Linked DNA regions of Homo sapiens. The protein of the gene in region 1 interacts with the protein of each later gene in a pairwise test. Each region holds a gene or a part of one and is shown on either strand. Other genes may lie near its edges. The genes, in order: CELF4 and LYST.

Region 1 (5,615 bases):
CTGGCCCACAGGCTGTAGTCACAGAAAGCTGAGGAGGGAGGGAGCGCCACCCCTGGGGGAGAGAAAGAATCAAGGGTGATGAAAAGCAGAGCGCCTGCTCCCTGAGATTGCTTGCTGGCCAAGGTGGTTTGAGGGGCTGTTTTATTTTTTTTCTGGCCCCCTTGCCAAACCGCCCATGCCCCCCTCCCCAACGCATGATGGATGCCCTTAGTGGCCCTGTGTGAGGTTCTGCTTCTGTTCACAGTGTATCATGTGTCTGCATAAACAACCGTGTGTGTGTATGTGTGTATGTGTGTGCGTGCGTGTGTGTGTGCGTGTGTGTGTGTTGATGTGCCCATGTTTGTCTGCTGGCTTCCTCCATCCTTTGAGTTCTTTTCAGTTCTCTTATGATTTGACTGCTGTTCTCTCATCAGAGCTTCTAGATTGATGCTGTGGTCTGGTGCTGTATAAATATATTTTCTTTTTAATTTTGTTTTAACTTCTTCCTTGCCCTCCTTCACCCAAATCCCAGCCCTCCCTGCCCTCCCACACTCCCCAACCCCACCTGCCCTGCCCCACCTCTTCCTTCCCCCACCCACACTCTCTTGTCCTCTCTCTCTCTCTCTCTACATATATAAATATATATATAAATCTTTTCTTCTTTTGTCATTCAATCAAATTCCAACAACCCAACCAGGGCCAGTCAAATCCACCACAGTCTCGCGCTGAGCTAGGAATAAAGTTCACGTAATCACATGAGAGTGGAGAAAAGTCCCCCATCCGTAAGTTCAAATCAACTCAAAGTTCACAGTGTGACATGATGGCGTCATGTAACAAGGCTAAGAATCGGTTGCATGACAATTGCCGTCAAGTTTCGTGGAGGTGCTGTGATTGGAGCGTTTTTCTTGGATGTTGTATCAGTTGATGATTGGCCAGTCATGATCACACGTGCATTTTCTTGACTTTTGTGCTGCCACAATCTTTTTTGCTGTGCTCATTTTCGTTTCGTTCTTGGTGCTTGCAGTGGTTTTACTTTCTGTTGTTTGGTTTTTCTTGTTCAGCGTTTTTTTATGCTTCTCTAGATGTCACATAGAGAAAAAAACAAAACAAAAGAACAAAAAATAGTCAAAATAAAGATGAATTCCTGAATTATCAAACATGGGATCATTTACCTGTGCAAACCATTATTTTTTTCTTAAAAATAAGGAAAACATCTTAAAAATATCTATGCGTGGTTGATTTACTTGCACTTGAAAATATTGTGATTTTATTTTTTTCTAGAAATTTGGGGGCCTTTTTCAATTGACACTTTCCTAGGTCTGGTCTTTTTCCAGTTAGGCTATTTTCAATCTCACTTCAAAGGGAAAAAAAACAAAAACAAAAAAACAAAAACAAAATATCTACAGTAACAGAATGATAAAAAAATTCTAAACCAAAAAACTAGAGTACAAAGCCAGAGGCCTCTGCAAGAGAGCCCGGTAACAATTGTAAGGTTTGTATTGTAACCACTTCTGCTAAATTAAATGTGGGGAGGGGAGGCTGGGGACTGGGGGCTCGGGAGGGTTTTTTTTGGTTGGTTTGGAAGAAACAGTACTAACAAAAGCAAAATGCACCTTTTTGTTTACAACTGAAAAAGGGTCCTTGACAAGTGTTTTTTAATTTTATTATTATTTTATTTGGTGTTGTAATTGTTTAGACTGCTGTGTACGGTTTGCTGTTTGTTGAATCAACAGTGTGAAAAACCTGCCAGCATGGATTGATATACGCATGACGTTGTCCCCTCAAGTGGGGGCTTTGCAGTTCTAACTTTCTTGATGTAACCAGTCACCCCCATGTATAAGTGGAAGCTGCTTGCTAGAATGGAGATGAGTCTCATTTGTTAATTCACAATGATTAAGCATTCGCCTTCTGATTCTAGTCAGATCATGATTTTTTTAAAGCAAAACAAAACACCAAAAAGCCACCATTCAAAACAAAATCAAGCACTGTCTGAGTTAATTTATTTAAGTTTGATAATTAAATCTCTTCTGACCTTTTTTAGGTTTTCCCATCCACTCCCTTGAAGTTCTGAATTCCTCTAAATTCCCTGGCATGTATGAGAAAAGTATTATGTGTGTGTATGTGTGTATATATGCATATACATACACACATATCCATGTATATCCACATATGTGCAGGTGAATATATTCTACACATATATCCAGATATACATATATATACACAGCCTCGCAAATAGTTACTGACCCCGGGAAAGAAGTGGTTGGCTGGAAGCTGGGCAAGGATTCTACAAAATTTGAGTCACGGATGTGTCTTCCTTCTTTCCCTTGAGCTGGGAGGAGTGGGCTGGGCTGCTAGATTTTTCCTATCTTGTTTGCTAGGCTTCTGTATACATATTGTATCTGGGCTAGATCCCTCAGAGACAAGTTTAATTATGAATTCATATCCCGCAGTCCCAAATTCTCCCCTTAGATGTAGCTACCCCCAATCCAGAATGCTAAAGTAACCCAAATCAAGAACCTTCTCCCAACAACGAAACCTCAGCTACAACCATCACCACTAGACCTCCCAGTGGTTTCTACTCTGAATAGAAGAGTATATTTCTTTTTAATGTATCATGATCATGACTAATTCTCATACTGGTCTCTCTTCCTTCCCTCCCACCATCCCCTAGAGCTCCCATCCTAGCCCCTGAGGCAGGTTCCTATTGGTGTTTGGATGCTGTTTGTGTTTTCCCTCTTGGCTTAATCAGCCCTGATTTTCTTCATTTTAGGGCAGGATGCTGAACGGGCTACATTAAAAAACAAACCTCTCTCTATATATATTTATAAATGAGAACTGTTGGATGACACCTTTGACATATCAGCCAATATCAATCAAGCTGAAGACTCCAGACACTGTCTGTGTGACTGTAACATTTCTTCAAGGAAAGTATAGCGTCTATGGAGTTCAGAGGGCACGTGTTTGGGGGAAAATATATATGACATGAAGAAGAAGATGAAGAAAAATGAGAAAAAAACACACAAAAGGCAACTTTAAAACAAAATATCACGAGCAGACGGGGAGGCTGAAGGGCTGGGAGCTGGGAGGAGACGCTGCTTACCGATCCCGGGGCTTTTCCAGCCCACGGGCGCCTGACGCAGGCTGGGGCAAGTGGTGCGTGGGGCCTGGTCCCCAAGGGGCGGCTGAGAGGCCGCCACTGAGCATCTCTATCTGTCATTCCTTTAGCTATTTAGGGACCAAAGGACCAAACTTTTTATTGCAGATGTGTAGCTCTATGTCAAATAGAGGGGGAATGGAGGACCCCCTCCTTCCTGCCTCATGGCTGTTCTTGAAACAGCTTAGAGCGATTCTATGAAAAAATGTAATAAAAAATTAAAAAAAAAACAAAAAACAAAAAAAACAACAAAAAAAGGAAAAATAACGCTTCAATGCTTTTAAAACAGCAAGATAATAGTTCTTTGATACTTTGAGAGGCGCTTTGATGACCCTCATCCAAGTCTATGACACTTTCCTATGGTTTTCTGTATTCTATGTCTGGATGGAGCTGTTAAAAGATGAACAAATTGGTGGATATTTGGGGAAAGCAACACAAATCTTAAAACTCACCCGTGAAGTGTGAGAAAACAAGGAGGGGAACAAATGGGACTTACCAAGCAAGGTCATTGTTGTGAAAAGTCTGTAAATGCTTCTAACTCTTCCCCCTCTTAAAATCATAATAGTTGTACAGAATTTTAAAAAGGAAAAGTTTAAAATACCTATATAATAGAAGAAAAATTAGAGGAAAGCAAAAAATAAAAAAAAAAAATAAAAAAGGAAAAAAAAAACCTATAGAAGTTAGCATTACTGCTAAAATCCCAGATGTTGTAGGACTGTACTTTTGTAGAGTTTAGACAGAGCATCAATCCCTTCTCCCCGCGAGTGCAGTCGGATGCCGTTGTCCCCAAGGGCCAGGCCGAACTCGCCCCACACCTGCGGGCGCCTGGCTGCCGACGCCGGTGGAGGCCACGCCGTCGGTCGGGAACGGTCGCGTCGCCCGGGTCGCCGCCGCCGCCGCCGCCGTCATCCTCGCCTCTCGCTTCCCTCTGGGAGCTGCGCGCGCTTCACTCACCTTCCGCTTCACTCGCCTTCCACGCTTGCTCCAGAGACTTTCCGGGCAAGGGAGAACTGGGAACTTTCATCTTAAAACAACTAGACAACACACACACACACAAAACCTTAAAAAAGAGAGAGAAAAATAAACAATCTTTGAAGAATTTCTGAAACTGTTTACAAGGAATTTTGAAAAACAGGGATGTTTAAATGATGCCGGCTCTGTTTTTCTGTAAATAAATTTGCATATTTTGTAGGACTTTTAATTGTAATGATAGAGAAAAAAACAAGGAAAACTATTTAATGAAAGCACGATATTTATCTTTGGTAAATGACTTTAGAGCAGTTAAAGACATTGCTTAAAAAACTCAGAATCAGAAAAAACACTGAATTATTTAAGAACACATATATTTTAAAGTATAACATATTTATTATAATTTATTTGCACCCTTGGGAAGATTGCTTTGGCATTCTGCCTTGATTCCTTCTCATTGATGTCCAGGTCATCTGGAGGCCGGGGGTTCTCAGACCTACCAGTTTCCCTTTAGAAGAACAAATTTCCAGTTCCTCTAGGGCCTCCTGCCTTTCCTTTCTTTCTGTCAATTTTGTTGTTGTTGTTGTTTTTCATTTTCTTTTTTTCTCTTGACTCCTCCTTTTAGGATGTCCAGATGTAAAAAAAAAAAAAAAAAAAAGAAAAAAAGAAAAAAAAAAGAAAACAGCTGCAGTTCAGTACAACTGCTCTTTTCACACTCAACTCCCTAAAACTCCTTGTAACCTTCTGTAACTATTGGATGACGCTTTCTCCAGCTTAGCCCTAAATAAAGCACAGTTTAAAAAAATATTTCTTCATTGGTCTGTGCCTCTCGGACTCTGGCCAGCTGTGCCTCACAGCCCCAAGGCTTGCCCACTGGAAGTAGCTTTGGTCCTCTTTATGGAATCTGCCACACAGGCCCTCGTTCTGAGCCTCAGCATGTGAGGCTCTTCTGGGAGGTGATGGGAACAATAAAAGGAGGTCCTGTTCCACTCTAGGAAGAATCTCTCTGGACTGGTGTGTGTCTCTGAAAGTCCCCACTGCAAATTCATTCTTCTGGGTTCCTGGCAGAGGTGGCCACAGTGTCCAAGCAGAACAGAAAGGAGGCTACCTAGGCCACCCGACCTGAAGGCCGAGCAAGTGTTGGGTTGGGGGGGGAAGTTATGTGACACCTTAGGGAAGGAGGCAGTGGAGGGAAGAGGCCACAATAAAGGAAGAAGGATGAGGATGCAACTCCAAATTTACCAGCAAGCATCTTGCTCTTGGCCCCACACCTCCCGCTGCTTTGGCAGTTTGCAGGGATGGAGAAAACAGGATTCTGGGCCCTCAGTCAGGGTCCTGGTGGGGGCAAGGATGTAGAAAGAAGAGTAGGGGCCCTCCCCTGGGGCGTTTCCTGGCATGCTGCCTGTCCTACACTTAGATACGAGCTGGAGAGAGGTGTCCAGACCCTGAATGCCAGGGTGGGAGGGAAAAGCATTCCGAAGGAGGAAGAACACCACGCAGGACTTGGAGAGGG
Region 2 (8,007 bases), on another chromosome or scaffold:
TGGCAGTTTATGGGTGAAATTTTTAACCCCCTGGTATAGTCAAGGTAACGTAAAAAGTGTCTTCAAAACAAAGTCACTTGTGTTTACTACTAATAATCTCAGCTTTGACAAAAATTCTTTGCTTGGCCAAACTTACTCAGGCTTTTGAATTTTCTGTGAGGCCCATCTGTGCACTTCCTTGTAAAATCCAGTATTAGCAAAGAACCCTGCTAAGTCTGTTTAGCATAACATCCTGGATATCTAATCATCCTAAATATCTGATCAGGTTCCTCATCCTCCACCATTCCCCAGGTAATGTCTGATCGCCCTGGCCTGTCTTCAGCAAGAATCCCGTTAGGTCGGCTTAGCCAGAATCCCCCTTATCCCTGATGTTTCCTTTTAGCAATTTTCCATCCACGATCCCCACACTGCTGCTTGGCTATAAATTCCCATTTTCTCATGCTGTATTCGGAGTTGAGCCCAGTCTCCCTCCCCTACTGCAGGGCCCCACTGCAGAGGTCTCTATACCTATTGAGATGGTTCTGAATAAAGCCTTACTTACCATTCTTAAACAAGTATCATTGAATATTTTTTTCTTTAAAAACGTGAATGTCTAATTTTATTGTCTTCTAACCAACTCCCACCCTTCTCCCCACCAAACCTACTCCTCTCGTAAACCTAATCTCAGTAAACAAGTACCCCATCTTTCTACTTGTTCGGAACTAAATTTTGGTGTCTTTTACATCTCTACCCTCAATTTATCCTGAAATCAATGACCTCTCACCACCTCCACCAATTCCACTCTGGTCCAAGCTACATTATCTCTGGCCTGGATTAGGGCAACAGTTCCGGATTGGTATCCCAGCTTCTGCTCCTGCTCAACCCTTCCCCTACAACAAAGTCTATTCTCCATCCAGCGCCCAGAATGATCATTTTTAAAAGGCAAGCCTGGGGCCGAGCGCAGTGGCTCACGCCTACAATCGCAGAATGTTGACACGCCAAGGTGGATGGATCGCTTGAGCCCAGGAGTTTGAGACCAGCCTGGGCAACAATGGCGAAACCCCATCTTTACAAAAAATTAGCCAAGCATGGTGGGTGATGTGTGCCTGAAGTCCCAATTACTTCAGAGGCTGAGGTGAGAGGATCACCTGAGCCTGGGAAGTCGAGGCTGCAGTAGGTTGTGATCATGCCACTGCACTCCAGCCTGGGAGACAAAGTGAGATCCTGACTCAAAACTAAAAATAAAAGGTAAGGTTCTTTACTCAAAGAGTGGACTCCCCTTTCCACTGAGAGTAGAAACTCAAGTCCTTAAAAGGGCCTACAAGGCCTTATACAGTCTAATCTCCCACCACACTCACCTCTTTGACTTTATTTCTACTCCTCTTTGCTTTTTCCACCACAGCCAAATCAGCCTCTCTGCTGTCCTCAAACAAGCCCAGCACACAGGGCTTCTGCAAGCCCTTCTGCCTTCCTCTCTGCTAGCACATCCTTCCCTCAGAGAGGTACATGGATTACCCCTCACTTACTTCTGGTCTTGGCTCAAATGATATCTTTTCTAGGAAGCTTTCCCTGGCTGCCTCTAGTTAAAATTGCAAACCTCTCCCGGTTCCCTGCCCTCCCTCTTCCCTGCCCTCCCTCTTCCGTGCTTTTTCTCTGTAGTACTTAACACCATCTGACACAGCACATATTTTATTTGTTTATTATCTGAGGTCCCCACTAGAATATAAGCTCCATGAAGGAGCAGATATTTATGTTTTCTTAGAAAAGTATCTGACACGCAGTAGGTGCTCAATAAATATTTACTAAATACATATATATAATTATATAGTTTGTGAAGTATTTTTATGCAAATTACAGCAATTCATTTTTCCTTATGCCCTCTCTTCTTCAAATTCTCCAATCTTTGTAGTAACAATATGGATGACAGCAAAGAGCTATCAGAAAAAGAGTTGTTGGCCACTTAACAAAGCTCTTTAAAACAGATACCCCATATTAATCAACTACATCTATAAATTGAAAGCTTAAAGTCAACATCTTTATTAGCATAGATGAATCTAGGCGTGGAATTTTAAAATAATAGCGCAGAAGAGCCAAGAATCATCAGGAAGAAAAGTCTAATTCAGTTTGTCCTATCAATCTGTTAAACAAACAATAGGAAAATGCAACCTGCATTTGATCTTCAAGGAAACACTGGCCCAAATTCAACACGAACGCATTCAACACAAGATTCGACTCCCTTAAAATTTTCTATCTGCTTAAAACAAACCCCATTAACTATCAAGTGCCGTCGCTGGGTGTGTATGGTCTGCCGAGCGGATCGGGGATGTTTTGCTATGTTTTGTTTAACCAGATAAGAATTAGCGTTAAGGAAACGTTTCTTAAAGCCTCTGTATCCCCTGGACCATTAAACAACCCCTTCGTTGGGCTTTACACTGTGGTACCGGGGTCTTCTCGGGTAATTTCCCAGCTTATTTAACTCATCAGAAGCGAAGGGGCATCTCAGTCAGGCTCCAGTGATACCGGAGACAGACGGCAGATGTCTCAGGGGATCCCCTGGAAAGAGAGGCTCTCGCCCAGTCAAAGGGTGTCACGGACAGGAGGAAAGAGCGGACCGAGGCGCACGGTGTAGGTGACAGGTGGGCGAGCGCCGCAGGGCAACAGCGCGGGGAGTGACCGGCTGGGTGGTGGCGCGGAAACCGTCAACTCCCATCGTCAACCTGACAGCTTGGGCCCAGCTGGGCTGAGTAGTGCAGCGGCACAGGATCAAAAAATAAAATAAAGGTAGCAACACACCGCCGTCAGCCTGCTCGACCTCGCCCCCCGCGCGCTGCGAAATAAAGTTAGTGCCCAGTGGCCGCTGCAATGGCCCAGAGGGGCCCAGCCGAGCTCCCGCCCGCGGCCCGGCGGCTGTCAAAGGCGGCCCGGCGCCGCGAGAAGTCCCAGAGCCCAGAAGCCAGAGAGGACGCCCCGAGCTGGCGCGTCAGGCCGAGTGCCCTCGCGCCCTCGCGCCCTCAGCCCGGCGGTCCCGGCCCTCAACCCAGGCTGACAGCCACCAGCCCCAAACCGCCTCCCCTCCAGGCCACGCAGAGGGGCCGGGACCCGGAACCTTCTGCCGGCAGCGTCGGCGCCCGGCGGCCGCCTTTACCTGGTTTGTGGCAGCTGCGGCCGCCGCGCACTCCCCCTCTCCCGGAGAACCCCGAGCCGACGCCGCTGCCGCCGCCGCCGCGCACTCCCCACCCCCGCCCGCCCAGGTAACCCAGGAAACCGAGAACACCACCCCCTCCCTCCCCTCGTCCGGACCCAGACCCGCTCGTCTGCGCGTGCGCCCTTGGCTCCGCCTCGCGCGTGTAAGCCCCGCCTCCTCTGGGAGGGCAGCGCCGGCGTCGCAGGCGTGACGCGTGGAACTGCCGAGCCAATAGGGAAGGCAGGGGGGCGGGCCGACCCGCGGGGCTGCAGCCGGGGCCCGGTCTGGGTTTCTCAGCGGTCGGGGGTCGTACCCTGGGTCCGCACCTCCTCCCAGGGCTCTGCGTAGTGGGCTGCGTCAGACCCTGGGGAGTGCGAGCACCGTTTGAGAAGCACCAAACACAAGCGCATCGTCCGCCTCTTCCATTCAACACAGACTGTCAACCTGTCCCATTGTGTAGGTCTAGAGGATGAAGATAGAAGAAATAACGGGAAGGAGTCAGGAGAGGGAGAAAGGGTTACCCACAAGGCACCCCTAGCCTTCCTCTGGGACCTGGAAAAAGCCATATTGTAATGGTTACCGTCGGCTTCTTTCAAGAAACAAAAAGAGCTTTGCAAAGCCACTGCAGAAGTAATTCAGTGCAGTGGTGTATTTTCCAACCGACTCCTGTTCAAACACGGTTTGTATACAGTGCGCACTGTCAGTGTCATATGCCCTAATAGACCAGTCCCTCCAGAGGGTGGGAGCTGTAGGTAAAATCCAGGATGTTTTGGCTGCATCCCCGGCTCTGGGCCCAGCACGCTGCTGGCAGACTGCTGCGGTAGGCAGTTTGGCATTTCAAGGGCCACCCTCCTCACCTCCTAGTCACTGAGACAGCAACGCCAGAGGTACTGGGAAAAAGCCTGAACTGTAATCGTTCGGTAGTTTTCAAGTTCTGCCAAACAATACAAACTATTAATAAGCAGATAATCTACAAATTGACAGGAATTGCTGTAGAATCAACAACTCCCATAATTTTTTGCACAGGAATTATGAAATAGAAATAATTCAGGATATTATGTCCCAAGCCTATATACCAAATGTTACTCCCAATTCCTCAAACTCCCATCTAACCCAATGACAAGCAAAGTGCGTTAAGTTGCCCACTGATGTGGTTTAGAGGGTGCTCTTGGGGAAAATTCCCCACTTTAAAATATGTCTTCTCTGACGTCTGATGTTTAACCATTAGCAGTTCATATCTTTAGGCGAAGATTGCCCACTTCCTCTGGCAGGTAGTCTTTTATTTTTATTTTTTATCTTTTTTTTTTTGAGACAGATTCTCGCTCTGTCGCCCAGGCTGGAGGGCAGTGGCCGGATATCGGCTCACTGAACCCTAACAAGTGCAGGAAATAAATGTCTCAGGGAACTTATCACTCATTTAAGCAGTATATAATGAGCACCTACAATGCGCTAAGTATTGTGCTAGGTGCATGGGCCTGAACTGAAACAAAAAGAGGAAGCCAAACTTAACCTGTTTCGTCATTTTACCTAAAGCTGTGTCTACTCTTATTTATACATCAACTTTCACCCACTAATCTTAAAAACACCCCCCTTTTTTAATGGACAAAAGAAGTCAAAGAAATATTAAGTAACAAGCCAGTTTCTGTTAACCTTGAGTAGAAAATAATAGATTATCATGATTTCATTAAAGCAAAGAAAATGAGACAGACTTTAGATGATAATGGTATACAATTGGCCCTCAAAGTATTATTTGTTTGTAAAAGGCACAAAGTAATGCCATTTGTGACTATTATTTTTTTCGGTACCAGTGTTTTTTATTTTATTTTATTTTCAAGATGCAGCTTCACTCTTTTTCCCTGACTGGAGTGCAGTGGCACAGTCTCGGCTCACTGCAACCTCCGCCTCCCGGGTTCAAGTGATTCTCCTGCCTCAGCCTCCCAAGTAGCTGGGATTACAGGAATGTGCTACCATGCCCGGCTAATTTTGTATTTTTAGTAGAGACAGAGTTTCATCATGTTGGTCAGGCTGGTCTCGAACTCCTGACCTCAGGTGATCCACCCACCTCTACCTCCCAAAGTGCTGGGATTACAGGCATGAGACACCGCTCCTGGCCTCGGTTCCAGTATTTTAACTAAGCTACTGCAGTATGTATTTTATTCAATAGTATCTTAGAACATCGATACTAAATATACATATCAAATAAAACTTAGTTTAAAAGATTTCCTAGGAACACACACAAAATGTGTAGTGAAGAACATGAAAAAGAAGAAAAAAGTAAAGTAATAGGTATATAGAAGAAAGCTCTACTTGGCCGGGCGCAGTGGCTCACGCCTGTAATCCCAGCACTTTGGGAGGCCGAGGCGGGCAGATCACGAGGTCAGGAGATGGAGACCATCCTGGCTAACACGGTGAAACCCCGTCTCTACTAAAAATACAAAAAATTAGCCGGGCGCGGTGGCGGACGCCTGTAGTCTCAGCTAATCGAGAGGCTGAGGCAGGAGAATAGCGTGAACCCGGGAGGCGGAGCTTGCAGTGAGCTGAGATAGCGCCACTACAGTCTGGCCCGGGTGAAAGAGCGAGACTCCGTCTCAAAAAAAAAAATAATAATTAAAAAAGCTCTACTTACGCATGTATCACATGCTGGAAAACTTTTTAAGCAGGAAAGTCTTCAGCTAATTTGACTCCAGAATTATAATCTTCAATGAGATTGTAACATCCCAGCTTAAAACAACACAGTCAACGTAAATGTGCATAATTTCACATTTAATTATTCTCCAAAACACCTTTAAAAATTATTTGTGACTAAATGGATATATAAATCAAATCATGTCACATCTCTGCTCAAAAATCTGCATTGGCTCTCCGCTTCTCTCAGATAAAAGCCAAAGTCCTTACAATTGGCCTACAGAGCTCTAACACCATCTGGCTCCTCAAAACTTCGTCTCTTTCTACTCTCCCATCACTACCTACATACCTGCTTCTTTACTGTTTACCAAACATGCCAGATACAGTCCTGCTTTAAGGGCTTTGCACTGACTGGCCGGCCCCTCTGCTTGAAATTTGTTTTCTCCACATGGCTGCAGTTGTTAACTCCTTTATCTCCTCCACGTCTTTGCTCAAATTTCACCTCTCAATGAGGTCTACCCTTAATACTGCCCTTAAACTAGGCAAGAGGGGCCTCTGCCCTGGACCCCACACATGAATGGACCTCATCTCACAAATGTTCCCTAAAACAATAGTATTAAAAAACATGTATGTTCTCTGTCCCTTCTTGGGGGGTGTGGGGAGGTGGGTGGCATTGGTGAGAGTTGACACAGTTGTTAAATCAAGTTTAGCCTAAAGCTGCCTCCTTGCATATTTTAAGTTCAGCCTAAAGGTTTTTCTGTACATCATGAGCTATAACAAATGAAGGTGTAAACAGGCCATAGCCCACACCTGTGTCAATCCCTGAGTTTTGGCCAATCAAATGTAGCCAACTGTTTGAACTGTGTTCTAATAAAGCAAACGCTGAGCTGCAACCAACCCAGTTGTTTCTGTACCTCACTTCCATTTTCTGTATGTCACTTTCCTTTTGCTGTCCATAAATCTCCCACCGTGTGGCTGCGCGGGAGTCTCTGAGCCTACCTTGGCTCAGAAGGCTGCCTGATTCACGAATTGTTTTGTGCTCAATTAAACTTTAAATTTAATTTGGCTGAAGTGTTTCTTTTATCACAGTGTAACCTGTAACTCTAAACATCATCTCTTTCATAGCACCCATCAGCTTCTAACATACTACATAATTTGTCTATTTCTTATGTTTATTTTCATTGTCACCCCTGTTTAGACTATGGGCTCCACAAGGGCCACAATCTTTGTTCTATTTCTGATGTATCCCAAGGACCAGAACAGTGCCTGGCACTTAGTAGGCACTCAGTAAATATTTGGATAAATAGTTAAATTAAGAAAATTTTGTTGAAAATTCAAATAAATATCCAAACAGTAAGTTGACCATAATTTTGGAGCTGGACAATCTTAATGCCTACTGCAATGCATGGGAACAGAAATGGATTTGTGAAGTGGTAGAGGAATACAAGACTGCGATTTCAGCAATAGTAAGAAGGTCAGAATTATACAGATGAATAAAATTATGCATTTGACTAAAGACCTGCATCAATTTAATTTTGAGTGTCACTTTAATTTTGAAGTGCTTTACCTTATTAGGATGCATATACATCTTTTACAATTGTGCGTCTTGGTAGCCACCTTGAAACTTTATTGAAGAGGTCAATTCATAATTAATGTCTTCATTAAGTTGTTACCAACATCCATTTCATTTTGCAAAAGTTATCAGATTTGGTTTTAGTATGATTCTTTCATGTAATTTTCTCTACTAAATCACCAATAGCATTTGAAATCCCCAAAAGTATTGTCAGAGGCGTCCTAACTAGAGCGATTCCATCTTGAATAAAGGCCGGATAAAAGCAAACCTGCTGTGTTACATTCCCGAGGGGTTGGGCACTGTTGGTCACAAGACATTTATGGTTGAGGGAATGAGTTAATGATGCTAATAACTAATTAAAGACCCAGAATTTATGGAAATGTCCTAGTACTTTAAGAACAAAAAGCATTCTTAGTTTAAGACTAGGTTTTGCTTTAAAGATCATATAATATACTCATTAATTCTTGCTGAAATCAATAGTAACATAGGAAAATAACAATACTAATAGCATGTCACAAGCTGATCACAAGTCTTTGTAATAAAGTACACTATTCTTAACAACCTATAGAAGCAAGCACTATGTTTAAGGTAGTGAGTTCTTCCTTTTGCTTTCTAAGGACACCCTACTCTGTAATTGAGTAGTCTC

What was found.
Region 2: the proteins of CELF4 (region 1) and LYST interact in a two-hybrid assay, tested with the Homo sapiens proteins (one study listed by BioGRID).

The regions. Positions count from the first base shown.
Region 1 is NC_000018.10:37,242,332-37,247,946, reverse strand, and holds the end of CELF4 (CUGBP Elav-like family member 4), read left to right. Parts: intron 1-676; coding exon of another isoform or gene 677-730; exon of another isoform or gene 731-2,749; coding exon of another isoform or gene 2,750-2,776; 3' UTR 2,777-4,907; downstream 4,908-5,615. UniProt on the Homo sapiens protein: RNA-binding protein implicated in the regulation of pre-mRNA alternative splicing. Mediates exon inclusion and/or exclusion in pre-mRNA that are subject to tissue-specific and developmentally regulated alternative splicing.
Region 2 is NC_000001.11:235,863,719-235,871,725, forward strand, and holds the start of LYST (lysosomal-trafficking regulator), read right to left. Parts: upstream 3,189-8,007; 5' UTR 3,125-3,188; exon of another isoform or gene 1,338-3,124; intron 1-1,337. UniProt on the Homo sapiens protein: Adapter protein that regulates and/or fission of intracellular vesicles such as lysosomes. Might regulate trafficking of effectors involved in exocytosis.